6 separate regions of the Homo sapiens genome follow, and regions 1, 3, 4, 5 and 6 are each linked to region 2. The links come from fine-mapping of genetic effects on gene expression. A gene starts in region 2. Each other region holds a variant in brackets. All regions are shown on one strand. Distances are from middle to middle.

What was found. PIP is the estimated chance that this variant, and not a neighbour inherited with it, causes the effect. A credible set is the group of variants that fine-mapping cannot tell apart.
Region 1: its variant is the best candidate, but not a certain one, in a credible set for the expression of NRDC in cerebral cortex (GTEx, PIP 0.52).
Region 3: its variant is the best candidate, but not a certain one, in a credible set for the expression of NRDC in ileum (GTEx, PIP 0.75).
Region 4: its variant is the best candidate, but not a certain one, in a credible set for the expression of NRDC in monocytes (BLUEPRINT, PIP 0.62).
Region 5: its variant is the best candidate, but not a certain one, in a credible set for the expression of NRDC in blood mononuclear cells (TOPMed, PIP 0.70).
Region 6: its variant is the best candidate, but not a certain one, in a credible set for the expression of NRDC in whole blood (INTERVAL, PIP 0.79).

Annotation. Positions count from the first base shown.
Region 1 is chr1:51,560,084-51,564,218 of GRCh38, forward strand. It overlaps EPS15-AS1 (EPS15 antisense RNA 1), which reads left to right. Exons shown (of 5, transcript NR_183651.1): 2 at 799-940. It also overlaps a transcript of OSBPL9 not described here and the pseudogene CALR4P. Among named protein-coding and RNA genes, the nearest start is that of EPS15, 43 kb to the left of the region's middle. The variant C/A (reference allele first, on the strand shown) is at 2,341.
Region 2 is chr1:51,876,714-51,880,839 of GRCh38, forward strand. It overlaps NRDC (nardilysin convertase), which reads right to left and starts at 2,014. Exons shown (of 31, transcript NM_001101662.2): 1 at 1,562-2,014. The coding sequence starts at 1,902. RefSeq lists enhancers at 1-335, 2,004-2,298, 2,182-2,361, 2,752-3,305 and silencers at 2,052-2,101, 4,059-4,126.
Region 3 is chr1:51,788,382-51,792,513 of GRCh38, forward strand. OSBPL9 (oxysterol binding protein like 9) reads left to right here. Exons shown (of 24, transcript NM_024586.6): 24 at 1-838. It overlaps NRDC (nardilysin convertase), which reads right to left. Exons shown (of 31, transcript NM_001101662.2): 25 at 3,996-4,043; 26 at 3,665-3,717; 27 at 3,197-3,280; 28 at 2,519-2,609; 29 at 2,152-2,268; 30 at 1,187-1,276; 31 at 829-1,052. The coding sequence ends at 855. Among named protein-coding and RNA genes, the nearest start is that of MIR761, 46 kb to the right of the region's middle. RefSeq lists a silencer at 242-442. The variant T/C (reference allele first, on the strand shown) is at 1,890.
Region 4 is chr1:51,799,675-51,803,674 of GRCh38, forward strand. It overlaps NRDC (nardilysin convertase), which reads right to left. Exons shown (of 31, transcript NM_001101662.2): 21 at 882-1,009. Among named protein-coding and RNA genes, the nearest start is that of MIR761, 35 kb to the right of the region's middle. The variant CT/C (reference allele first, on the strand shown) is at 1,587.
Region 5 is chr1:51,816,585-51,820,584 of GRCh38, forward strand. It overlaps NRDC (nardilysin convertase), which reads right to left. Exons shown (of 31, transcript NM_001101662.2): 9 at 3,216-3,289; 10 at 1,482-1,551. Among named protein-coding and RNA genes, the nearest start is that of MIR761, 18 kb to the right of the region's middle. The variant A/C (reference allele first, on the strand shown) is at 1,762.
Region 6 is chr1:51,699,287-51,703,421 of GRCh38, forward strand. All of the region lies in intron 3 of OSBPL9 (oxysterol binding protein like 9), which reads left to right. Among named protein-coding and RNA genes, the nearest start is that of OSBPL9, 84 kb to the left of the region's middle. The variant G/A (reference allele first, on the strand shown) is at 2,067.

The DNA.
Region 1 (4,135 bases), 320 kb before region 2:
AGAAAATAAATAAACAAACTAAGAAAGCTTCAAATAGAGGGCGTCTGTCCCAGAAACCTTCGGTGGCTCTGAACTGTAGAAATCACTGATCAGAGACACTGAGACACGTGGCCATGGGACTTTGCAGGATATACCCAAGGACAGGTGGCTGTGGCTTCCAGAGGCTCTGTTGTACAGTGGGTGTAATCAATACAGCAAAGGCTTTAGAGGCTGACAGACCTATGTTTGAATCGTGTCTCTACCATGCGTTAGCTGTGTGCTCTTGGACATGTCGCTTGGTGTTTCTGAGTCTCAATTCTCTCAAACATAAAATGAGGAAATAATAAGGGATAATAGTACTTACCTTATAGAGTTGTGAGAATTTGGGGAGGTAATGTAGGTAAAGCACTCACCCCAGGCCAGTGTTTAACAAAAGTGAGTTCCCTTCCTCTCCAGGGGAATTCTTCATCCAGGACTTTGTAGATTATAGTTTCTAACAGACTCCTGGGAGGAATCATGGCCAAGGCCTTTACTCTGGGGCCTTGAGCCACTCTCTTTTCTCCTGATTTGGGGAGGAGTCCTCCCCATCTTTCTTAATAAGTCTCAGAGAAGAAAGAGATGGAGAGGACAACAACTTTTTAAAGGCTGGCGTATTGGTCCCCTCCTTTTTACCTTCCAATTAAAGGAAAGAAGACTGGCAGAGAGAGGGAAGCTGGGTCAGGACTTATCATCATGGCTGGGGCAATCACCCCTAACATCTGTCCGGGAATTTTAATGTTTCAGAGTTTTACCACATCTCTGATTTCCCTTTATCCCTAGAAGCACCTCCAAGGATCACGTAGGACCAGCAGAAGCAGCGTAAAGTATTGGAACTTTGAATCTGACATCAGAAAGACCTGCACTCAGCCGGGCACGGTGGCTCACGATTGTAATCCCAGGCCGAGGCGGTGGATCACTTGAGGTCAGGAGTTGGAGACCAGCCTAGCCAACATGGTGAAACCCTGTCTCTACTAAAAATAGAAAAATTAGGCAGGCGTAGTGGTGCATGCCTGTAGTCCCAGCTACTCAGGAGGCTGAGCCAGGAGAATCACTTGAACCCAGGAGGCAAAGGTTGCAGTGAGCTGAAATTGCATCACTGCACTCCAGCATGGGTGACAGAGTAAGTGAGACTCTGTCTCAAACAAACACAAAAAGAGCTGTACTTAAATTCTAGCTTTTCTACTTACCTTAACAGATGTATGTCTTCAGGCAAATTATTTAACTTTTCTGAGTCTCCTTTTCACATTTAGAAGTAGGAGACTTTCACAGTGTCATATTTTCACCCCCATCAATATTATTGATGCTTGCTCATTTTCTAATGTGGGACCTGAAATTTACCAGGTGCTTAAAGAATCTTTTTGTTTTTCAGATTCACTGATTCTAGGTAAATCAGAGGAACAAGCAACATGAACAGAAAAAATGTAGAAAATGCAATTATGCTGAAGTACAATTGTTGTTTCAGAAGTCCAGCATCTGGTGTACTTAACAATAGAGAATATATTAAATTTTTCCAAAATAAAAAAAACAAGTAGGAGACTCGCTAGTGAAAATTAAATGGCATATGCAAAGTCTTTAATACAGCATTTGGTACATGAGAGGGACTCAGTAAATTTTAGTAACTTATAATTATTAGGAAGACTATGACTGCCCCCATTTAAAAGATCAGCAGTCTGAGGCTTATAAAGACCAAGACTTATTCAAGTCTTGTGATTTCCAGCCTGAGGCTCTTTCTACTTTGTGAAAACTGAGAGACTGTGGCTCAGTGGCTCTGAGCTCAGAGGGCTTTACCTGCCAAAGGTCCAGGCTGAGAACACTAATGTTATAATAGTGACAAATGGTGGCGTCAGGCTTATATTTAGGGTTGTCTATTTTGGGATGAATCTACTCCCCCTGGTAATTGGGATTTTCAATGATCCAAGGTTTCCATTCTCCCTAAGCAAAGAACCAGTGAACAAGGCATTAGTATTTTGTCATTCTTCTGATCTCATGCAATCAGAAAGGCCAATTGATATGGTTTGGATCTGTGTCCCCACCCAAATCTCATGTCAAATTGTAATCCCCAGTGTTGGAGGTGAGGCCTGGTGGGAGGTGATTGGATCATGGGGGCAGAGTTCTCATAAATGGTTTAGCACGATCCCCCCTTGGTACTGCATAGTGAGTGAGTTATCATGATATCTGGTTACTTTTAAATTGTGTAGCACCTCCCCCCTTTCTCTCTTGCTCCTGCTCCCACCGTGTGAGAAACCCTGCCATCACTTTCCGCCATCACAGTGGACACCTGAGGCCTCCCCAGAAGCTGATGCTGCCATGCTTTCTGTATAG[C/A]TATAGCCTGCAGACCCATGAGCCAATTAAGCCTCTTTTCTTTATAAATTACCCAGTCTCAGGTATTTCTTTATAGCAATGCAAGAATGGACTAATACACCAATTGATTTATGAGGCAGTTGTGTATTAGACATAAGGATTCAGAGAAGGATTCCAGGAGCTTCTTTCCCTTTCTTTGAGTTAATGCACAAGATTCTTTCAAATTCCCCTTGCTACCCAGAGGAAGCCAAGCGAGGTGGCAGGGACCCATTCTGAGCTTGGCCCCATGTCTGCACCAGCTCATTCATGAAATAAAGAAAATGTAGCTTCTCAGAGAATATCATCTGAGTATCCTGGCAGTTGAGGCCGTTCTCTTCCTGGTGTGTAGTGTAGGAAACTGTGGCCAAATAAAATCATGCTTGCTTCAGTCAGTTTTACCTCTGGACAATTTGACACTGATTCCTTTCGTTCTTCTTGCTTCTAACATGAGGTCAGGAGTTAGCTCTTAAAAATAAGTGTCCCTTGGCTGGGTGCAGTGGTTCACTCCTGTAATCCTAGCACTTTGGGAGGCAAAGGCAGGCGGATCGCTTGAGGTCAGGAATTCAAAACCAGCCTGGCCAATAGAGTGAAACCGCGTCTCTACTGCAAATACAAAAAATTAGCCAGGCGTGGTGGCACGTGCCTGTAGTCCCAGCTACTCGGGAGGCTGAGGCATGAGAATCTCTTGAGCCCAGGAGGTGGAGGTTGCAGTAAGCCGAGATCACGTCACTGCACTGCAGCCTGGGTGACAGAGCAACGCTCTGTCTCAAAATAAATGAATAAATAAATAAAATAAAAAGTGTCCCTACCCCTTGCATTTTTGGCTCATTCATGGACACCCTTTCTCCTTCTGGCCTGTTTCTAAGACTTCCAGTTCCTGACCCCAAACCCATGTCCTATTTTGACCACATTCCTGTGACTGGCTGCTTTCCACCACTCTGGACAAACTCCAGGCCCAGGGCTGCCTGGCCCTATACCTGTCAAAGTTGGCCTTTACCAGCCCACCCCGTCCAACGTAGGCATAGCCCTGTGAGCAGGGCTCAGATGAGGGTACAGTCTTATTTGCGGGGTTTAGGGGAAGGGAAGATGACCACAGGATCTCAGAATTTCTGTTTCATCAATTAGCGTTGACATGTCTTTTGTCTCATTTCTCACACCCATTGGAAAGAGAGACCCCCCTCACCTTATACTTCGGATTTGGCATCAGAGGCCTTTCCCACTCCCCATCCATAGCCTCCTTCCAGTTATCTGGCTTCTTGGCTTCTGGATCCAGGATGTATTCAAAGTCTTCCCAGTACTAAAATGAAATGTTCCTTCATGAGGATAGATGCGTAGGCTGAGAAAAAACTGGGGTCCAGGCTGGGCGTGGTGGCTCACATCTATAATCCTAGCACTTTGGAGGCCAACGTGGGAGGACTGCTTGAGCCCAGGAGTTCAAGACCGGCCTGGGCAATATAGTGAGACCCCATCCCTACCCCAAAGAACTTTAAAAATTAGGCAAGTGTGGTGGCATGCACCTGGTGGGAGGATCTGAGCCCAGGAGGCAGAGGTCACAGTGAGCCATGATCATGCCATTGCACTCTAGCCTGGGTGACAGAGCGAGATCATCTCAAAAAAAAAAAAAAAAAAGAAAGCAAGAAAGAAAAGAGAAGAAAGGAAAAGAAAAGAAAAGAAAACGGGGGTCCAGAGTGCTGTCAGGCTGGACCTGGCTCCTTCCCTCTGCCCCCTCCCATCATCATCTATATGAAGGTCCAGCTCAGGACCTGTAAACAAATGC
Region 2 (4,126 bases):
GAAAGGAGAAATTAGGTTGGTCCTGAACTTGGAGCTAAGTGTCATCTGTCAAAGAGGTGTGGTGGGAAGTGGAAAAGATTATCTATAAGGTTGTTTCTTGCGCTAACGCTGTAGGGGCTTATAACAAATTTAGAACTAGAATCCTTCAGCTTTCAATTCACATAAGCAAGAAATTTGTAAAAAATCGGCAAACGGGCTGGGCGGGGTGGCTCACGCCTGTAACCCCAGCACTTTGGGAGAAGAGGCGGGCGGATCACAAGGTCAAGAGATCGAAACCATCCTGGCCAATATGGTGAAACCCCGTCTCCACTAAAAATACAAAAAATTAGCCGGGCGTGGTGGCGAGCACCTGTAGTCCCAGCTACTGGGGAGGCTGAGGCAGGAGAATCGCTTGAACCCGGGAGGCGGAGGTTGCAGTGAGCCAAGATCGCGCCACTGCACTCCAGCCTGGTGACACAGCAAGACTCCGTTTCAAAAAAAAAAAGGAAATCAGCAAATGATACACTGAATTTGGTGTCAGATAGTAGGGGTCATCATACCAGCTCTGTTATTATTTAGCTGTGTGATTCAGAGCAAGAAGCAAACTCTTTGGGTCTCAATTTCCTCAACCTGTTCAACGAAGTTATTGGACAATATGAACTCTATTTAAAATACATCAAAGTCCAGGCCTGGCACAGTGGCTCACGCCTGTAATCCCAGTACTTTGGGAGGCCAAGACAGGAGGATTCCCTAAGCCCAGGAGTTTGAAATTAGCCTGGGCAACATCGCAAGACCCAGACTCTTATTAAAACACACACGCACACACACACACGCAAGATACATCATAGTCATGATACTCCATGAAATAAGCTACCTCTGAAGGAAAATACTCAGGTGGGGACTGAATCACCAATTATTAGAAATGTTTAGAGAACTCCTGTACAAACCAAAAGTAGAGAATTTCAAGGTTAGAAGAAACCTTACAACTCACCCAACTGAGACCTAAGCCCTCTCTAATATATTCCTGGACGAGGTCGCCCAACCGTTTTGGTAATGGAGAACTACCCATGGAAACAAGTCACTTCAACTTAGGCCAAATATGATGCAAAGTTACTTTACTGAAGCCACACCATCCTCTGGTAACTTTCGTCCACTAGTTTCACCTATCACTTAAGTGTCCCTCAAATATTTTGGATAGTGATAATATGCCCCTTAAATATCCTGTCCTCCAAATTAAAGTATCCAACTCCGTCAACCTTTCCTGGTAACATAATACCAAGACTCCCTCACCATTCAGGCTGCGTTCCTCAAAGAAACCTTCATTCTTGCTTTAGCGACTGTATTCAAATGACTCGAAAAGCTTCTCCCATTCTGACGTCTTACAACCCAAGATCTCCCACTTGCCCAGCTGACACCACAGGGAAGCCTCTAATCACGCTTGCCACCTCCACCCAAGGAAGCATTTGGGGTGGAAAGTGTGCCCTGTTGCTCCATTGGGAGACATGGAGACAAGAAGTGACGGCGGCACCGACAGAGAAGCCGGCACACTGTTCGCCTCCCCATTGCAAGCCTCCTCCCTCACCGGTATTGCTTGGGGTCGCTGGGAGACTTGACGATCTCAGGGTCCCCAGCATTACTGAGAGACCCCCTCCGTCCCTCTTCCTCAGATTCATCCGCTCCTAGACGGGCAACCCGGCTGTTCTCGCCCAGATCCTGTCCATTGGGCTGCAGGTCAGGGCAGCTGCAGGTAGACTTCGCCTTGTTCCTTCCAGGCATGGCCAGAATAGGAAAGGGTCTGGCAGCAGCAGAGTCTTCGCACCGACCCCGCGTTTCGATTCCCCAGAGCGCCGCGAGCTCCCGCCCGGCCTCACACAACTTCCTCCGGGTGGCACAGACTGCAGCAACAGTGACTCTCCTCAGCATTCACCACCAAGCTGGAGCGATGGACATCCCGCTTCCCAGGACCCACCTCCTCCGCGTTCTAGAGGCGGTGGCGGCCGGCCCTGGTGCTGCCGCAGCCGCGGGGAACAGGCCTGAACCCCTCCCCCAACCCAGTCTCCCTCTCGCCGACTTCCCTCGTCCCTCCGCCCTCCCGGCCGCCGATGACGCTACTGATTTCAGCCAATCATGAGGCAAGAAAGTAGTCACGCTCACGTAAGCAACCAATCAGAACAGGAAAGGAGAGGCACCAACGTGACCCGGACTGATTCTCGGAACAGCCAGCGAACATTTCGAAACCCAAAGTGGGCGGGGCGAGGGAGAAGAAGCGGAGAGAGTGGCGCGGAGGACGACGGGAGAAGGGCCCCCGGCGCGTTTATGACGTACGAGTGTGTTTTGTGGAAACCACTGAGTAGTGCTCCGCGTGTCAAAGAAAAATATTCCCCTAATGAGAAAACTGAGAAACGAGTGCAGAGAATTAATTCCAAAGTTTTAAATTTTCCCATTCGTGTCATAGTTTGGGTACCCTACTCCTCAGACCCGGGGCGAGCCTTCGGCTGTGACTCAGCACATAAAAAACCAGAACGCCGGAAGTATTTTCCTACACCCGCCGGATGGACGCTGCTCCCGAGCGCCGCAAATACTAATTGGCTCTTCTCTACCCTACAGTCGGCCCGACAGTGGTGGGGTTTCATCCTCAAGCCCTAAGAAAGTGCTAAAAAGACCAGTCTGGATGTGCTAACTCTTCTGTGTGAAAACGTTTTTTAGCTCCTCCAGCCTCCTGTTAAATTCGGCCAATTTTTATCGAGCAGCTGCAGCGTCTGCTGCCTTCAAGTCTCCTTTCCCAGTTTTTCCCGCTAGCAGTGGTCTTTGGTTAGCAATGTAAAATGTGACGGAAATACAAACATAAATGAAAGCTAAAAAGCAGCTGAAATTAGTAAGATGCACTATACTGACACCATGGGGTAAGAGATCATAGCTCATACATACGAATGAGCGGGGAAAGACGTGAAGCAGGGAGATGTGTTGATAGTTACTGTATCTTCAAGGTTTTCGAGGCCTCTTCTGAGTTCCAAATGCAAGGAATACAACCATGAACAAAACAAAACTTGCCTTAGGCTGGGCGTGATAGTGATAGCTCACACCTATAATCCTAGTACTTTGGGAGGCCGAAGCGGGAGGATTGCTTTGAGCCTGGGAATTTGGTACCAGCCTGGACAACATGGTGAGACCCCCGTCTGTACAAAATTCTTTTTTAAAATTAGCCAGGCTTGGTGATGCGTGCATGTGGTCCCAGCTACTCAGGAGGCTGAGGCAGGAGGAACGCTTGAGTCCAGGAGGTCGAGGCTGCAGTGAGCCGTGATTGCAACACTGCACTCCAGCCTGGTTGACACAGTGAGACCCTGTCTAAACAACGACAACAAAAATTTAAAGCCTTGCCTTGGGGGAGCTTGCATCCTAATGGGAAGGAACTGTAAAATATGTAAACTAAAGTAAATCAGGCTTTTAAATAATTCAAGTTAGCTTTCTTCAGAAGTCTTATTGAGGACTGCCACCTGGGAGAGTCAGAGAGTTTTTTTTTTAGACTGCTCCAAAGCAGTGTTTCAGCCCGCAGCTTCTATACAGGTGGTGGCCGCTCTGCATGTGCTTGGAAGTTAAATCAAATGTGCTCAGAAAGGCTGGGCCTGTAATCCCAGTGATTAAGGAGGCTGAGGCAGAAGGATTGCTTGAGGCCAGGCATTTACAACCAGCCTGTGTAACATATCAAGACTCTGTCTCCACACACACATAAAAAAGCAAGGCGTGGTAGAACATCCCTGTAGTCCTAGCTACAGGAGAGGCAGAGTTAAAAGGATTGCTGGGACTCCTGAGTTTGAGGTTACAGTGAACTATGATTGTGCCTCTGCACTCTAGCCTGGTGACAGAGCAAGACCTTGTCTCTAATAAAAAAGAAAAAATGTACTCAGGAGTTACACTAGAGCAAAATCTCATGAAGGTTTAGGTGGAAGAGTACACATGTTTATAGATTATGGAGGCATAGTCATTAATCCTGTCAGAAATGTACAGGAAGAGGCAAGGTCGAGCATCATTGGATTTATCTTTTCTAAAAATGCAGTGATTCAGGCAAGAGACATGGGAACTTGTGCTCTATCCTGCATATTTTCAGGGTATTCTGGAGGGCTGTGCGCAGTCACTGAGGCTGTGAAAT
Region 3 (4,132 bases), 88 kb before region 2:
TTGTATCTAATCCTGGATTACAGTTTAATTAATTATTCTTAGTGCTTAAGGCTTCATAAAGTAATTTTTCCAACCTTTTTTTTAAAAATGTGCATCTTTTATTATCTTTTATGGTTAAACTTGGAAGCCAATTATTTGGCAACCTTGAATACAAGAGCTAGCTTTTCAAAGAAAGACACTTGAAATAATGGAGGATCCATTCTTTTCCTCTGTCAGATTGTATGTTCTGTCTTTAGCCCCTGCCAGGCAATTCCCCAGAATCTTCACTTAACTCATATTGCACATGTAGGGCTGCCTACCAACATTTTATCCAAAAATGTTTTATTGCCTTAGAGGGTTTGGGAAGAGTGTGTATTTATAGATCCCCACCCCACAGTGAACAAAAATAGATAGATAGATAGAATAAAATGAATGCCACAGCAGCAGATGGCTCATTCTGAAGGGAAATACAGAACTATATCTATCTATCTATCTATCATCTTTTTTATTTAAAAATACATTAAAAAAACAGGTATTAGTACCTAGCATTTAGTTAGTTATTCAATATACTGGTTACGTAAGGCCTTTCAAGAAGTAGATTCTCAGTCTGAGAGGACACAGGCCAGGGCTTCTCAAAGTGCTGCTGCAGGCTTTCTGGTCTCGCTTGGCCCATTCTGCTAATTTTCCTTTGCCAGCTCCTACAGTAACCCTGGGTTTATTAGTCTCAACAAAGGATAAAAAGTAAATCAAATGCTATGATGCCAGTGCAAAACTTCAATGGAAGCCCTAAGGCAGTAGTATAACTAACTCCATAAAATACAAACAAACACATTTTAAAATACACATTGCTTCAGGCCAACGTGACTGCAGTTTATTTATTTGACTATTTTATGGTAGGGGAGAAGGTTGAGTGTTGTTGTGAAAGCCCTGATATCAGTAATGGGGATGATACAATCTGCCAGCAGAGGAGAGGTTGGCAGGTAGGTCAGCTGCATCACTTCACAAGAAGAATTTGAATCCTCACTAGAAGGGGTACCATCCTCTTCCAGTTCATACTTCCCATATCCAACAACCTGAAAGAGGACAAAGACAAAAGTGAAAAATATGCTGACCAGATTTAGGGGTTTAAGAGTTCTGATGATAACCACCCAAACTCACTCAGTAAATGACAACCCTAGAATGGATGGAGTTAGTTAAACATACTCACATGAACGCTGAGCATTTTACTTCCTGGCCCTCTATGGGCCTTGAACCAGTTGACCAGGTCTGATTTTGAGAATGACTTCAGTGCTTCAATCTTACAAGGGAAGGGAAGATAGGAAAGAAATTCAAGAAGAAAGATAGCTCTTAAACCTAACCCCCAGGCAGATGTCCCTGGACCTGCTTAGCATCTGAAGACCTCATTTTATTCTTCCTATTCTCAGGTTACCCCTAACCTTCCAGACCAAAACGATGATGAAGCTCTCTGGCATGCCTTCACATTTTATACCAATCATCTACAATGGCAAGAGAGGTTAGCAGATGCTATAATTACAGCTAAATACCATACACTGAGCCCAACACCCACATCCCCTTAGTGTCACCTCCCAATTACATGGTAGCTGCATACCACGGCTTGAGGAAATCTACCTTGCTTCTATTAAGAAAACTAAAATGTGTTAAGATGAAGCCTCTTACTAAATAACCTCTTTACATCACAGAGCAATGATGTCCTATGGTAATTCACCATGTAGGGGCTATGTATTAACCAAAGTCACACTGGAGTACAAGATCCAGATCTTTTTCATAGGTTTTACTACTTTGGAATAGAAGTTGTCAAAACACATGCACTTGGAATAATGAACTCCGTAAAGACAAAGAGTCCTCAATTTTCTTTAAACGGCAAAACTCTTTTTCTCCACAAAATCTTG[T/C]AGACCTCAATATATAGCATAAAAATAGAGCTGCTCTGATTGAAATTGGTGGTGGTGTGGTAAGGATTAGCACCCAGCTCACGTGGCCACCTAAGGTGCTAGAGAGGCCAGTCTGAAAACTCAGGAAGTGAGCGAGTAATCAGGCCAGGACTAGTGTTTCGAGTTTCTCTTCCACACAATGCTGGTGTGCACAGACCTGTGATGCCTGTAGAATCAGGAACCTTGACCAGTTTGAGCTGTCTTACTCTGAAAACCATGTTACCTCGTGGGCAAGGCGGTCAAAGAGGTACTGCTGTGTAACCACTTCATTCCAGTTCCTATCCACCTCCTCCCCAAGGTGGGTATCCTCACACTCCTTCAGCTTGATGAGAGCTGTGACCTGTTCCCACCAAAAAGAAAGATGCTCAGGTGAGGCAACATACCACTTCCCACAGAACACACTGGGCCCTGTCCAGCCCGGCTTGTGATGGACATGCCAGTATAAGAGGCACGGATGAAGCTAGGGAGACACTATTGTAAGAGGAAGGTGGGGCTGCAAAGCTCAAAAACTGGCCGGCGAAGCCCTGTTAAGATTTGTATCTGGGGGCTTGTGTGGGCCAAAGGCCAAAAGACCAGGCTGGCACAGTCACCTGGGTGTTGAATGCCTCTTCAGTGAGGTTCTCAATCTTCTCCTCAAAGCTAGAAAGAAACTCTTCTATCTTCTTATCAACAACTTCAGAACTGAAACAAAACATCTTCAATCAGAACTAAAACAAAACATCTTCAATTAAGTCATCAGAAACCCGATCTCAGGCAGAAGGCAAAAGAAGGAATTAAGACTAAGACATATATCCAGGAAAAAAAGCTAAAGTGTTTTCCCAGGCCTCAGTATTCCACCTGACTTTGAGGACAGAAAGAGAAAGAACCCTCCCCCTCACCCCACCTCCAGCCCAGTTTCCTGGTATCCTCATAATGAAGCAGTCACAACCATGTATGACCATTCCAAAGCTGAAAACTAACAGGTTTCAGCAATGCCTGTCAGATCAGGCATCCTTTCCCTTCTTGTCCTCAGGTCTGCCTGAAGAGAAGAAACACTGGCAAGCCCCACACAATGACCACAGGACTTGAATCAAGTCTGAAAGGGCCACTGGAACTATTGATCAGTCCTGGAACAGACCATCTATAACAACCCCCATCTTCCCAGCTTCCACTGACTAAATAGAGCAAACCTGCTTGGTCAGGGTTGCCCAAGGTTTAAGGAAACACATGTAGCCCCTACTCTCCATGTCCATAATAGGTTACACTCATCTATTCACTCACTCACTCACTTGTATTTGGTTGCCTGAGTCCCCACAGTGACAGAAAATCCTAGAATCCCGGATGTGTTCCTACAGGTAGGGTAGACATGGTACCTACAAGCCAGAGAGAAAAGTTATATGAGCTCAGGTGATCATCTGGGCCCTGGCCTTGGAGGCACTAGATAGGAGTGGGAAAAGTTTCTGCCCATCCTTATTGGAACTGGAAGTCCTGAAACAGGACCCAAAAATGTTAAGGTGTCCATACCTCTCCTGAATTGGGGACCACAAACTAGCCTTTTTTCTTATCTTGAAACTTGACCAAACTGAAAACCTGATTACAGTCAAAGATACAAATTCCAAAAGTTTGGATGACTAAATATCACCCTATGAGATGGAAGGAAGCTCTAACAGGCTGCTCAGTAGGGATATCTGATGAACAGCCTGCAAAGTAAGCCCTAGGCCCTTATTTGAGCTCAGTGGCCCTGCCAGCTGACTTACCCAAGGGTCTGCTTGGTTCGAAGGAAGTCAAAACAAGGTTCTTCCATGTGCATCTGTAATTCAACATACTGCCCATCAGCCCAACTCCTCCCAGCAGAGAAACCTCCATTTCTCTCCCCAGAGTGTTTCACATACCTCCCAAGTCCAGCCTCCCTTAGTGCCTTTTTCCTAATTGGCCCAGGCTTATACTGGGTGAGAACAGTAAATGACCATCTCACCTTCAAATCACAGATCTCTGACTACCCCATGTCCCTAACCCAGGCAGAAAAGGCCGGGCCTCATAGTGGGTCAGGGGCTGCTGAAAACCTCAGCATCTCCTTTATGCACTTACCACAAGCAGCTCCATAAGCGTATATTCTCTTAGACTCCTGGTACCTGACTGAAAAGAGAAGGTTGTCAGGCCAACTGAATATCCAGTGGTTTACAGGGCTTTTAAATAATCCAGCTATTCTAGGCAACCACTTAGGT
Region 4 (4,000 bases), 77 kb before region 2:
GAGGGTACCTCAGAAGGATACTTTTTTCTGATTCACGCAAAAGTATCCTACAGGCTACAATTAGCCCTGGACTAAAGTAGTAAGAACAGGCTCTGAATGAAGGCCCAAGGGGGTTGCCTGTGAGCAGAGGGTTTAAGTATTAGCATACAGACTGTGTAGCTGCCTTTCTGCTCTCTTCTGGAAGCTTGGCTGAATTCTGGATAGTTAAGATTGCTAGATAAGTGACATGTTTAGCAATTTAACTCAGCTACTAATCACCAACATACTAAAATCACCAGTAAATACTTCTTCTGGTTTGTTTTTTGTTTGTTTTTCTATGAGACAGGGTCTATCTCTGTCATGCAGGTTGGTGTGCGGTGGCATGATCATGGTTCACTGCAGCCTCAACCTCCTGGGCTCAAGCAATCCTCCCACCTCAGTCTGCCAAGTAGCTGGGACTACAGGCATGTGCCACCACACCCAGCTAATTTTTTAATTTTTTGTAGAGATGAAGTCTTGCTATATTGCCCAGGCTAGTCTTGAACTTCTAGGCTTGTGATCCTCCCACCTCAGCTTCTCAAAGTGCTGGGATTACAGATATAAGCTACCATGCCCGGCCTAAAACTAGCACTTCTTTAACATTCAGGTATAATGATTGGTGAAAACACCCTTCCTTACTTTTAGTCTCTACAGTAAGCTGCTTTCAGTCCCATTCACAGCTAGCTACATAAGCTGGGTTTAGAAATACCGTAACGCTATGCACGGGTCTCCTAAACTAGAGCACGATTCAAACACGGATGAAAATTAGCACTGCAACTATAGCCTTAACCCCCACACCCACCCACTAGGGAGAGTAATACTTTCAGGTCCTCAAAATATAAGCTCATCTCATTTATACCCACTTGGCCAAAGTCTCGGGCTTGATGAGGATGTTAAAGTAGGTCTTCTTCAACTGCTCAGTTATCATTGTAAAGACAGCTGGTGTGGAATTGAACTCAGCTAAGTAGTCAATAATGAGCTGAAACAGTAGCTAAAAGAAAAAGAAGGAAGCATTTTAAGAAGCATGGAAATCCACTAGGTATTAGGGAGGGAAATGTTTCTCTTTGGTTTTTACCAGGTACCCAGCATGGAACTAGGCATTGTGGGGGGACATAAGAAAATTACTAACAACTCAATTTGTTCGTTTGTTTGTTTGGGTGTTACCTGGAGACAGGATATCACTGGTCACCCAGGCTGGAGTGCAGTGGTACTATCGACTGTAATTCATTATAACCTCGAATGCCTAGGCTCTAGCCATACTCCCACCTCAGCCTCCTGAGTAGCTGGGACTACAGACAGGGGCCACCATGCCCGGCTAATTTTTTTGCTTTTGTACAGACAAGGTCTTCTTATGTTGCCAGGCTGGTCTCAAACTCGTGGCCTCAAGTGATCCTCCTGCCTCAGCCTCCTAGCCTCAAAGAATCTTAAGGGTCCAAAATTCTAAATAATTGTCAAATTTGGAACAATTCTTCCTTTTTTATCATTTCATGGGTGTTCTCAATAAGATTTGTAGTTTGTCTTCAGATAGATCCTATACTTTTCCTGTTTATTCTTAGCCATTTTATTGG[CT/C]TTTTTTTCTCAATATTGTAAATAAATGTAAGATTGTTTCCATCCATTTGTTTCTTTCTTTTTTTAAGAGACAGAGCCTCGCTATATCGCACAGGCTAGTGACACGATCATAGCTAAGTATCCTCAAACTCAAGTATTTCTCCTGCCTCATACTCCGGAGGAGTTGGGACCACCGGCACATCCCACTGTGCCTGGCTTCCATTTCTAAGTGATTACTGGTACTATGGGGGAGAAAAAGCCATTGATTCTGATATACTAGTCTTTTGACCAGCCATATCACACCTAATTTTTTTTTTAATTTTAGTGGTATATGAGGTTTTCTAAGAATACAATCATATCATCTGCAAGGAAAAATATTTTTTCCAAAAAAGTTTTTATTTTTTCATCTTACTCTAATAGCCAGAACCTCTAAAACAATAACAGAATAATAGAGATGATTGTGGATTATTCTTGGCTTGTTGCTGATGTCAGTGTTCATCATTTTATCAGTTAATGTAATGTCCGCTGATAGTTCTTTACTTGAGGTTTTTTGATTTTTTTTTTGAGATGGAGTCTTCGCTCTATTGCCCAGGCTGGAATGCAGTGGCGCGATCTCGGCTCACTTCAAGCTCCGCCTCCCAGGGTCACACCATTCTCCTGCCTCAGCCTCCCGAGTAGCTGAGACTACAGGCGCCTGCCACCACGCCTGGCAAATTTTTTGTATCTTTAGTAGAGACGGGGTTTCACTGTGTTAGCCAGGATGATCTCGATCTCCTGACCTCGTGATCCGCCCGCCTCAGCCTCTCAAAGCACTGGGATTACAGGCGTGAGCCACCGCGCCAGGCTGAGGTTTTTATACTTAATTAATTTCCTTCCATTCCTATGTATTAGGAATGCCAACTCAAATTTATCAAATGATTTATCAGCATTTATCACTATATTCATACAGTGGCTCTCCTTTGACTTGTGTTGTGGTGACTTATGATCATCAATTTCCTAATATTCCACAACCCTAGCATTCCTGGTACTTGAATTATTCTTTTTGCTAAACTGGATTTAATTTTTAGAAAGTTTACATCTATATTCTACAGATAAAATTGATCTCTAGTTTTCTATACATACATACATACATATATATATGTTATATATTAGGTTTTAATATTAAGGCTAAGTCTCACAAATTCAAGAATATCAAATACTTTTCCATGGTTTGTATTTTTAATAAGCTCTCCAGGTAATTCTAAAACATATTTTCCAAATGACAACCACTGAATTAGGCTTTAATCTGCTTGAAACTTAAGCTACATTATATTTAGGCCTCAGAGGCTGACAAAGTAAAATTATTCTTGGCTTGTTGCTGATGTCAGTGATCATCATTTTATCAGTTAATGTAATGTCCGCTGATAGTTCTTTACTGATGGCGTCTCCTTCTGAGACCAATCTTTGTTCCATGGGGAGATGGAGAAGGGAAAAGGCATAAAAAGGTGAGAGCTATACTCTTCTCTTGGGTTTTTGCCCAGATGAAGGCTATTAACACCTAGCACAGGTCTTTCTGGCAGGTCCTTTCCTCTAAAATTTTTCTTGTATAACCCTATTTCCCTAAATCTTAATATAATATATATTCTACCCAAGAAACCTAGATATAAAATTTATTATTGAGTATATTATATTGCTTTACCTGGTATTCAGTAATCTAACTCTCTTAGCTAACAACCCATTATTTTTTCCTCCTCTTATGAAGTTTTTGATGAAGCAATACTGGAACATATTTCTCACTAAGAGATTAATAACTGACATGATACAGACCCTGCTTCGGAAAGGTTCATAAACTTAGAAGGGAAACAAGACACACATACTTGAAACAATGAGGAGCATAAGATGAGGAAGTAAGGGCACAAGCATTTGAGTTCTACTCTATTTCAGGCAAAACACCAGTCAAATTTGTTATTCCACAGCCGGCATGGTGGCTCACGCCTATAATCCCAGCACTTTCAGAGGCTGAGGCAGGCAGATCACTTGAGGTCAGGAGTTCGAGATCAGCCTGGCCAACACGGAGAAACCCCATCTCTACTAAAAATACAAAAATTAGCTGGGTGTGGTGGTGCGTGCCTGTAGTCCCAGCTACTCAGCAGGCTGAGGCATGAGAACTGATTGAACCCGGGAGGCGGAGGTTGCAGTGAACCAAGATCACACCACTGCATTCCAGTCTGGGTGATGGAGTGAGTATCTGTCTCAAAAAAAAAAAAAAAAAAGGTTATTCCTGTATGGTAAAAAATTTAGCTAGAACCAATCCTAAATGCCAGTGTTGGTTGTGGAGAAACTGACAGCAAAGGGAAGTGAAATCAATCCTAAAGCATGGGCTATAATCCCATGCACTGCCAGTAATTAATGAAACATATGTTGTTCTTATGGATAGTCAGTCACAGTTAGAATA
Region 5 (4,000 bases), 60 kb before region 2:
TTGAGATTACTGAAGAGTACAATCATCCCAAAATTTAAGGGCACTACTTTTTCTCTTGGACACCAAACTTATCTGCTCTCATGATAAATCTTTTTGCTTCACCCAATATGAAATGTAGATTCCTTATCAGTCTAGAACCTAATATAGGTATGAATTACTGTCTGTAAAAGCTTTTGGTACCACATTGGGTTCTGTGGTAAAATGAAATGTGTTGTTCAGAGGGTCAGAAAATCTTGGTTCTAGTTTTAGTTTTTCCTTTAAGTAAATCATGACCTTGAGCAAGATACTTAACCGTATTCTTCTTTTTCTCTTCACTTGCCCAACTACTTACTCACAGAGTTTTCATGAAAATGCAATAACAAGTATAAAAATGCTTTATCACATACTAATAATGTAATAGTCCGAGTAATTGTGCACATGCTGTTCAAACTGTCTTTCCCCCTGGCCTCTACTGTAATTTTGTTAAAGTATTCCTACCACAAAGACATACAGAAAAAAATTGAGTTTTCTGTATATTTCTGTATATATGAGAAAATTTAATTAGGTTACACAGTTAAATTCAGTAAATTCTTGAATGTCAAGATATGATTTTCAACTATGTTAGGCAATCCTTAAAGCCCATACAACCTTGTTTAAAATATGAATTTGGCTGGGCACAGTGGCTCATGTCTGTAATCCCAGCACTTTGGGAGGCCAAGGTGAGTGGACTGCTTGAGCCCCACCCCCCCTCCCAAAAAAGTTAAATTTTTATCAGTTGATTAGCATTTATTTCTAACTGGAAAAGCATTTGTAGGCATTGACTGATCCTTAACTTAAATAATTCTCTGGCCCATGCTACACTGCTCATATAAGATAACTATACAGACAAGTAGAACTCCTTTCCCAATCTGCATAAACCTGCCCTAATTCAGAGGAGTAAATCCTTGGGATTTATGTACCCTAGTCATATTACCAATCCAAATTATTATTATTTTGAGACAGAGTCTTGCTTTGTCAACCCAGGCTGGAGTGCAGTGGCGCAATATCAACTCACTGCAACCTCCACCTCTCAGCTTCAAACAATTCTCGTGCCTCAGCCACCTGAGTAGCTGGGATTACAGGTGTGTGCCACCACGCCTTGGCTAGTTTTTTGATATTTTTAGTCGAGACAGGGTTTCGCTATGTTGGCCAGTCTGCCAGGCCCAAATTATTTAACTTTATTTTTGACAAGATCGAAACAAATTACAAAAGTTAGCATTCACACTAAACACTTAATTTCAAAGACTTAAGAAAGGCCACTATAACTGAGAAAGCTCTAGTTTTTATATCCAAAAAATAGTAAAATACATAGCAAGGCTTGAAAGCTCCCGGAGTAATCAAGTTCCAGGTTACCGTATTGCTATGTTTATAAATTCAGAACCCCCAAACTTAAACCATTTAGCATGCTTTAAAAATTACTCTCACTTGGTTCTAATGAAGTAAATTTTCCCTTAAACTCTTACCTGTAATGTTGCTGTTGAGGAGGAAGTGCCCATGTGATGGTCAGAGCATGAATTTTTCTGATTGGAACAACTAAACAAAAATATTTTCCAGAAGAACAGATGTAAGTGTTTCTCTATGACTTTTACTACAAGAATGTTTAAAATTCAATATATTTATCCTCCAATAAACAAGGAAAGGTTAAGTACAATGCAGTTATTGTTTCAACTTGCCAATTTTCCAACTCGAATAATGCAATTTTTGTAAATTTCTTTTTTATTTGGTTTCAGAGGTAGAGAAAGC[A/C]GGGATAAAAGAACTATGAGGATATGAAATGCTGCTGTGTATGGATCTCTTCTTGCAAGAAAGGATACAAAACTAGGAGTCAGGAGACCCATGGCTGAAATTCAGTCCTACCACTATCTTGCTATATGTGCTTACATGACCTGAGAAAATCACTTGCATTTAAATCTTTTTGAATCTGTTTACTCATAGTAAAATGAGTTAGTTGGGTTAAAGTATCTCTAGGATTCTTCTCAATGCTATTATTCTATGAAGAGGAAACCTAAAACCAGAAAGAATACAATAAAAAGTAAGTTGTCTCTGGAAAGAGTTAGTTTAATATTAACAGAATGGAGCCAGCAGCAGAAGCGTGTAACAAAACAGTCACTGATTAGGGGAAAGCAAAAGAGACTGGTAACGGGGTGAAGAAGGAGGGAATACCTAAGGCAATTAGTAAAAACAGAAAAAAAAATCTGCCGTGATAGAATAAAGAGAGATGGTGAATTAAGAATGTTTCTGCAATATTCACTGTAGGCAAATTGTTAAGTAAATTATAATGTAATCACACAACTCATTATGTAGTTATTACAGGTATACTATTAAATGAAACAAAGCAGGAGACAGAATTATATATATACTTTATAATCTCGACTTTGTTAAGAAAATATACCTATTAGAAAATCAGAAAGAAATCTGGAGGCCGGGCGTGGTGGCTCATGCCTGTAATCCCAACACTGTGGGAGGCGAAGGCAGGCGGATCACTTGAGGCCAGGAGTTCGAGACCAGCCTGGCCAATGTGGTGAAACCCTGTCTCTACTAAAAACACAAAAATCAGCTGGGCATAGTGGTGAGTGCCTGTAATCACTGCCACTCAGCAGGCTGAGGCAGGAGAATCGCTTGAACCTGGGAGGCGAAGCAGTGAGCTGAGATCATGCCATTGTACTCCAGCCTGGGCAACAGAGCGAGACTCTGTCTCCAAAAAAAAAAAAAAGAAATCCGATACAAATGACTTCTCTTCATGGTAAGATTTAAGGGTGATTTATCTCCCATTTCTTGACATTTTATATTTTTATTTAGCAAATATTACTTTCACAATGAATTTAAAAGGAAACGATTGCCAAAGTGTTTTCCCTCTCATCTATTTTTATTCATTTAAAGGCAAAAGAGCAGAATATAAATAAAATGAAACATGAATGAAAATTTAACAAAACAGAGAACAAAAGGGAAGAAAGGTAAAACAAGGAGAAAGCATGAAATAGACTGAAGTAGCAGCAGGGCACCAGAATCAATCGATCTGCAGCTAGTCAGTGGTCTGCTATCTATTATTAATTAGATCTCCATTGCCCATCTACTTCCTTTCCAACCCAGCTGTATTTTCTGTTGTGTTCTCATTTTCAATGAAAATTGGCAGCTTCAATTAGGTTATAGAGAATGTGCTAACATTATTTCAAACAGTTTTAAACTTTTGGTTCACAAACCTCTATAAAGTTTGTTAAATGCTGGTGTGTCAAATGGATCCGTTAAATGGCCAAAGTTTGGTCTGGGTAACCCACTGAAAATAAAACAAATACATACAAATTTAACTGGCAAAAGCCTTTATAAGCAATATCTTTAGGGATATCTAACTGAGAGATATTTATAATCTATTCTACATACTCCTTCTTGGAAAGCATTCCAGGCATGAACAAATAGATGGCAACACAGCCACAAAATCTTCAGTTACACAATCTGTTCTTAGCCTCAGCCCAATAACTCAAAAGTCTTTACAACTCAAGAGATAGAGAATGAATTTAAAGGACCCCCTCTCACCCCAATATTTACTGACTCTATCAGCCTCATTTAATTTCAGTTCTCCTCCTAGACAAAGCCATTCCAGAAAGAAACAAACTAGAGATAATACTTTTTTAAAATCAACGATTATACATGAAGTGAATATTAGGTATAAAGCACTATATTAGGCACTGTGGTATTTAAAAGACTTGGTCCCTCCTAGGGGCTTCTACTCTGGTTGAAGATATTGTAACTTTAATATTTCTTCCAAAACACAGTTGATGCAAATTAGTATTAAATGCCTCAAAGAATTTTTAACCTGTCTAATTAAGGAACCAAAGTTATTAGTGAATAATATATGAGATTTTTTTTAATGCTCATCAGGGATTGACAGAACCTAATGAATTCCTCTATTAAACACACCTCTGATTTTATTAAAGTTTCACATTTGATATTTCCATAGTTCACACTCAAGACTTCTAATCAGAAAAAA
Region 6 (4,135 bases), 180 kb before region 2:
GTCTGTCTTTTTTACCTGGAATGTCTTCCCTGTCAGTGCCCCTCTCCTTCTCCACATACCCCCACTTTTTTCTTTCTCTCTCTCTCCCTCTCACCCAGACACACACATATACACTCACATACCTTTGCCTCTAATTTCTACTCAGTTTTAAAACTCAGCTTTAATTTCCTTGCCTCAGAAGCTTTCCCTGAGTTCGCCTTTACAAACACAAATGTCTTTATTTATTTTGATGCTCAAATTGTCCTCAATTTGACCAGAGGAATCCTATTTAAGCTGACCTCTGTGTCCTTTTAACATGCCCCTGTCATTCTTTAAGTATTTCCTTACTTTCTGGCACAAAAAGACATTCCAGGCTCATTTTATACCTTCTCTGTCCTAGTTCTGGAATCAACCATTTTTCCAGGGAGTGCTGATTTCTAATGATATTTAGAAATCAACACCCAGTGCTAGGTGTAGTTACTGCTTATAAAGTGTTATGGCTCCCAGGCCCTCTAGAGAGCTAAGAAACATATGAATGTTATGTACATAGAGCTAAGAAACATGAATGTTACATACATAGGGGTGTGCTTGTGTCTACACATGTGTACATCCATGTTCATATTTATTTCCATATGTATTTATCTACATGTATATCGAAAACCATGATGAGGTCATGCTGATACCTCCAGTTACAGTCTATCACAACAGAAATAATTCTGTTTTTTCCCTTACCATATTTAACTCCGTTTTCCAAAAGTGAGAAAAACTTTATCTTTGTTGTATTTACTTATTTGATCAATCCTTCTGTATGTAATTATTTTCCAATCATCCATGTCCTTTTGTAAATGTCACCATCACTCCATTCAGCCTTGGAAACCTTGTGCCATGCGGAGCCTGTTCACTGCAATGTGGACACCTTCCTTCTTTTTCTTGGGTTCTGACTCCTCATATTGGACTTTCCCATTGTATAGCTTCCCTCTTCCTCTTGCTTTGGGCTCTCATGCCCTGTGCTAGGTTGTGCCTTTACATGATGCATGCCCTCTTCACCCTACTCAGGCTCTAATGTCCTGAGCCAGATCTCCCACCCATTTGGTACAGTACTTTTAACTAAACTACAGAGCTCATTTGAATTTTCCCTCTAATGCTCCTTTTCTGTTCCAGGATTCAATCCAGGATGCCACATTGCTTTTAGTTGTAATAGTTCTTTATTTGTTTTTTATCTTTCATGACCTTGACATTTTTTATGAGTATTGGTCAGTTATTTTGTAGAATGTCTCTCATTTTGGATTTATCTGATATGTTCTCATGATTCGATTGCAATTATGTATTTTTGGCAAGAATACCACAAACATGATGCTGTTGTTTCCTTGTCTCAGTGGATTGTATTCAGAGGTATAGGATGTCAATTAATCTTATTAACTGGTGATGTTAACCTTGATCACTTGATTAAGATAGTGTACCAGATTTTTCCATTGTAAAATTATTATTTATTCATTTGGGGGAGATACTTTATTCTCTTGTGGGAGATACTTTGAATCTATGCCAATTTCCTGTTTCTTCTCACTTTTGCCCATTGATTTTAGCCATTAGTGGATCTTGCCTGATGTAATTATTGCTGTGGTGTTGGTCTAATGGTGATTTTTAACTTTTGTCAGTCCTTCTACACTTATTCATTGTAATTTTTTTTTTTTGAGATGGAGTCTCCCTGTTGTCACCTGGACTGGAGTGCAATGGCACAATCTCGGCTCACTGCAACCTCTGCCTCCCCAGTTCCAGCAATTCTTCTGCCTCAGCCTCCCAAGTAGCTGAGATTACAGGCACCCACCACCACGCCTGACTAATTTTTGTATTTTTAGTAGAGACGAGGTTTCACCATATTGGCCAGGCTGGTCTCAAACTCCTGACCTCAGGTGATCCACCCGCCTCGGCCACCCAAAGTGATGGGATTACAGGCGTGAGCCACCGCGCCCGGCCCATTGTAATTCTTCTAAAGGAAGAGATGTCTCATCTCCCCTACTTATTTACTTATTCAATTATTTTATATTAATATTGGACTTGTGGATATTTATTATATTCTATGGGTTATA[G/A]TCCAGTACTCTGTGAATTTATTTACCTAAAATCATGAGTTCATACTGAAACCTCCGATTGTAGTTCAACATCACAAGGTTTATTCTAACCTTCTCCCTTTCTGTATTTCTAATTTTTTTCTGATAGTAAGAAACCTGGTTCTCATTATCTATAACATACTCACTTGTCTGTAGTTACAGAATTGCTAACATGTACTCCTATGAAAATCAAATTTACTAACTAGAGTATTGTATTTGTATATGGTTCTTTTTTTTTGGCCTATCCTTTCACTATATAGTCAAAATACTGGTTTTTTTTGTTTTTTTTTTATACTTTTAAGTTTTAGGGTACATGTGCACAACGTGCAGGTTTGTTACATATGTATACATGTGCCATGTTGGTGTACTGCACCCATTAACTCATCATTTAACATTAGGTATATATCCTAATGCTATCCCTCCCCGCTCTGCCCACCCCACAACAGGCCCCAGTGTGTGATGTTCCCCTTCCTGTGTCCATGTGTTCTCGTTGTTCAATTCCCACCTATGAGTGAGAACATGCGGTGTTTCGTTTTTTGTCCTTGCGATAGTTTGCTGAGAATGATGGTTTCCAGCTTGATCCATGTCCCTACAAAGGACATGAACTCATCATTTTTTATGGCTGCATAGTATTCCATGGTGTATATGTGCCACATTTTCTTAATCCAGTCTATCGTTGTTGGACATTTGGGTTGGTTCCAAGTCTTTGCTATTGTGAATAGTGCCACAGTAAACATACGTGTGCATGTGTCTTTATAGCAGCATGATTTATAATCCTTAGGGTATATACCCAGTAATGGGATTGCTGGGTCAAATGGTATTTCTAGTTCTAGATCCCTGAGGAATTGCCACACTGACTTCCACAATGGTTGAACTAGTTTACAGTCCCACCAACAGTGTAAAAGTGTTTCTATTTCTCCACATCCTCTCCAGCACCTGTTGTTTCCTGACTTTTTAATGATCGCCATTCTAACTGGTGTGAGATGGTATCTCATTGTGGTTTTGATTTGCATTTCTCTGATGGCCAGTGATGATGAGCATTTTTTCACGTGTCTGTTGGCTGCATAAATGTCTTCTTTTGAGAAGTGTCTGTTCATATCCTTTGCCCACTTGTTGATGGGGTTGTTTTTTTCTTGTAAATTTGTTTGAGTTCATTGTAGATTCTGGATATTAGCCCTTTGTCAGATGAGTAGATTGCAAAATTTTTCTCCCATTCTGTAGGTTGCCTGTTCAGTCTGATGGTAGTTTCTTTTGCTGTGCTGAAGCTCTTTAATTTAATTAGATCCCATTTGTCAATTTTGGCTTTTGTTGCCATTGCTTTTGGTGTTTTAGACATGAAGTCCTTGCCATGCCTATGTCCTGAATGGTATTGCCTAGGTTTTCTTCTGTGGTTTTTATGGTTTTAGGTCTAACATTTAAGTCTTTAATCCATCTTGAATTAATTTTTGTATAAGGTGTAAGGAAGGGATCCAGTTTCAGCTTTCTACATATGGCTAGCTAGTTTTCCCAGCACCATTTATTAAATAGGGAATGCTTTCCCCATTTCTTGTTTTTGTCAGCTTTGTCAAAGATCAGTTAGTTGTAGATGTGTGGCATTATTTCTGAGGGCTCTGTTCTGTTCCATTGGTCTATCTCTGTTTTGGTACCAGTACCATGCTGTTTTGGTTACTGTAGCCATGTAGTATAGTTTGAAGTCAGGTAGCTTGATGCCTCTAGGTTTGTTCTTTTTGCTTAGGATTGACTTGGCAATGTGGGCTCTTTTTTGGTTCCATATGAACTTTAAAGTAGTTTTTTCCAATTCTGTGAAGAAAGTCATTGGTAGCTTGATGGAGATGGCATTGAATCTATAAATTACCTTGGGCAGTGTGGCCATTTTCACGATATTGATTCTTCCTACCCATGAGCATGGAATGTTCTTCCATTTCTTTGTATCCTCTTTTATTTCATTGAGCAGTGGTTTGTAGTTCTCCTTGAAGAGGTCCTTCATGTCCCTTGTAAGTTGGATTCCTAGGTATTTTATTCTCTTTGAAGCAGTTGTGAATGGGAGTTCA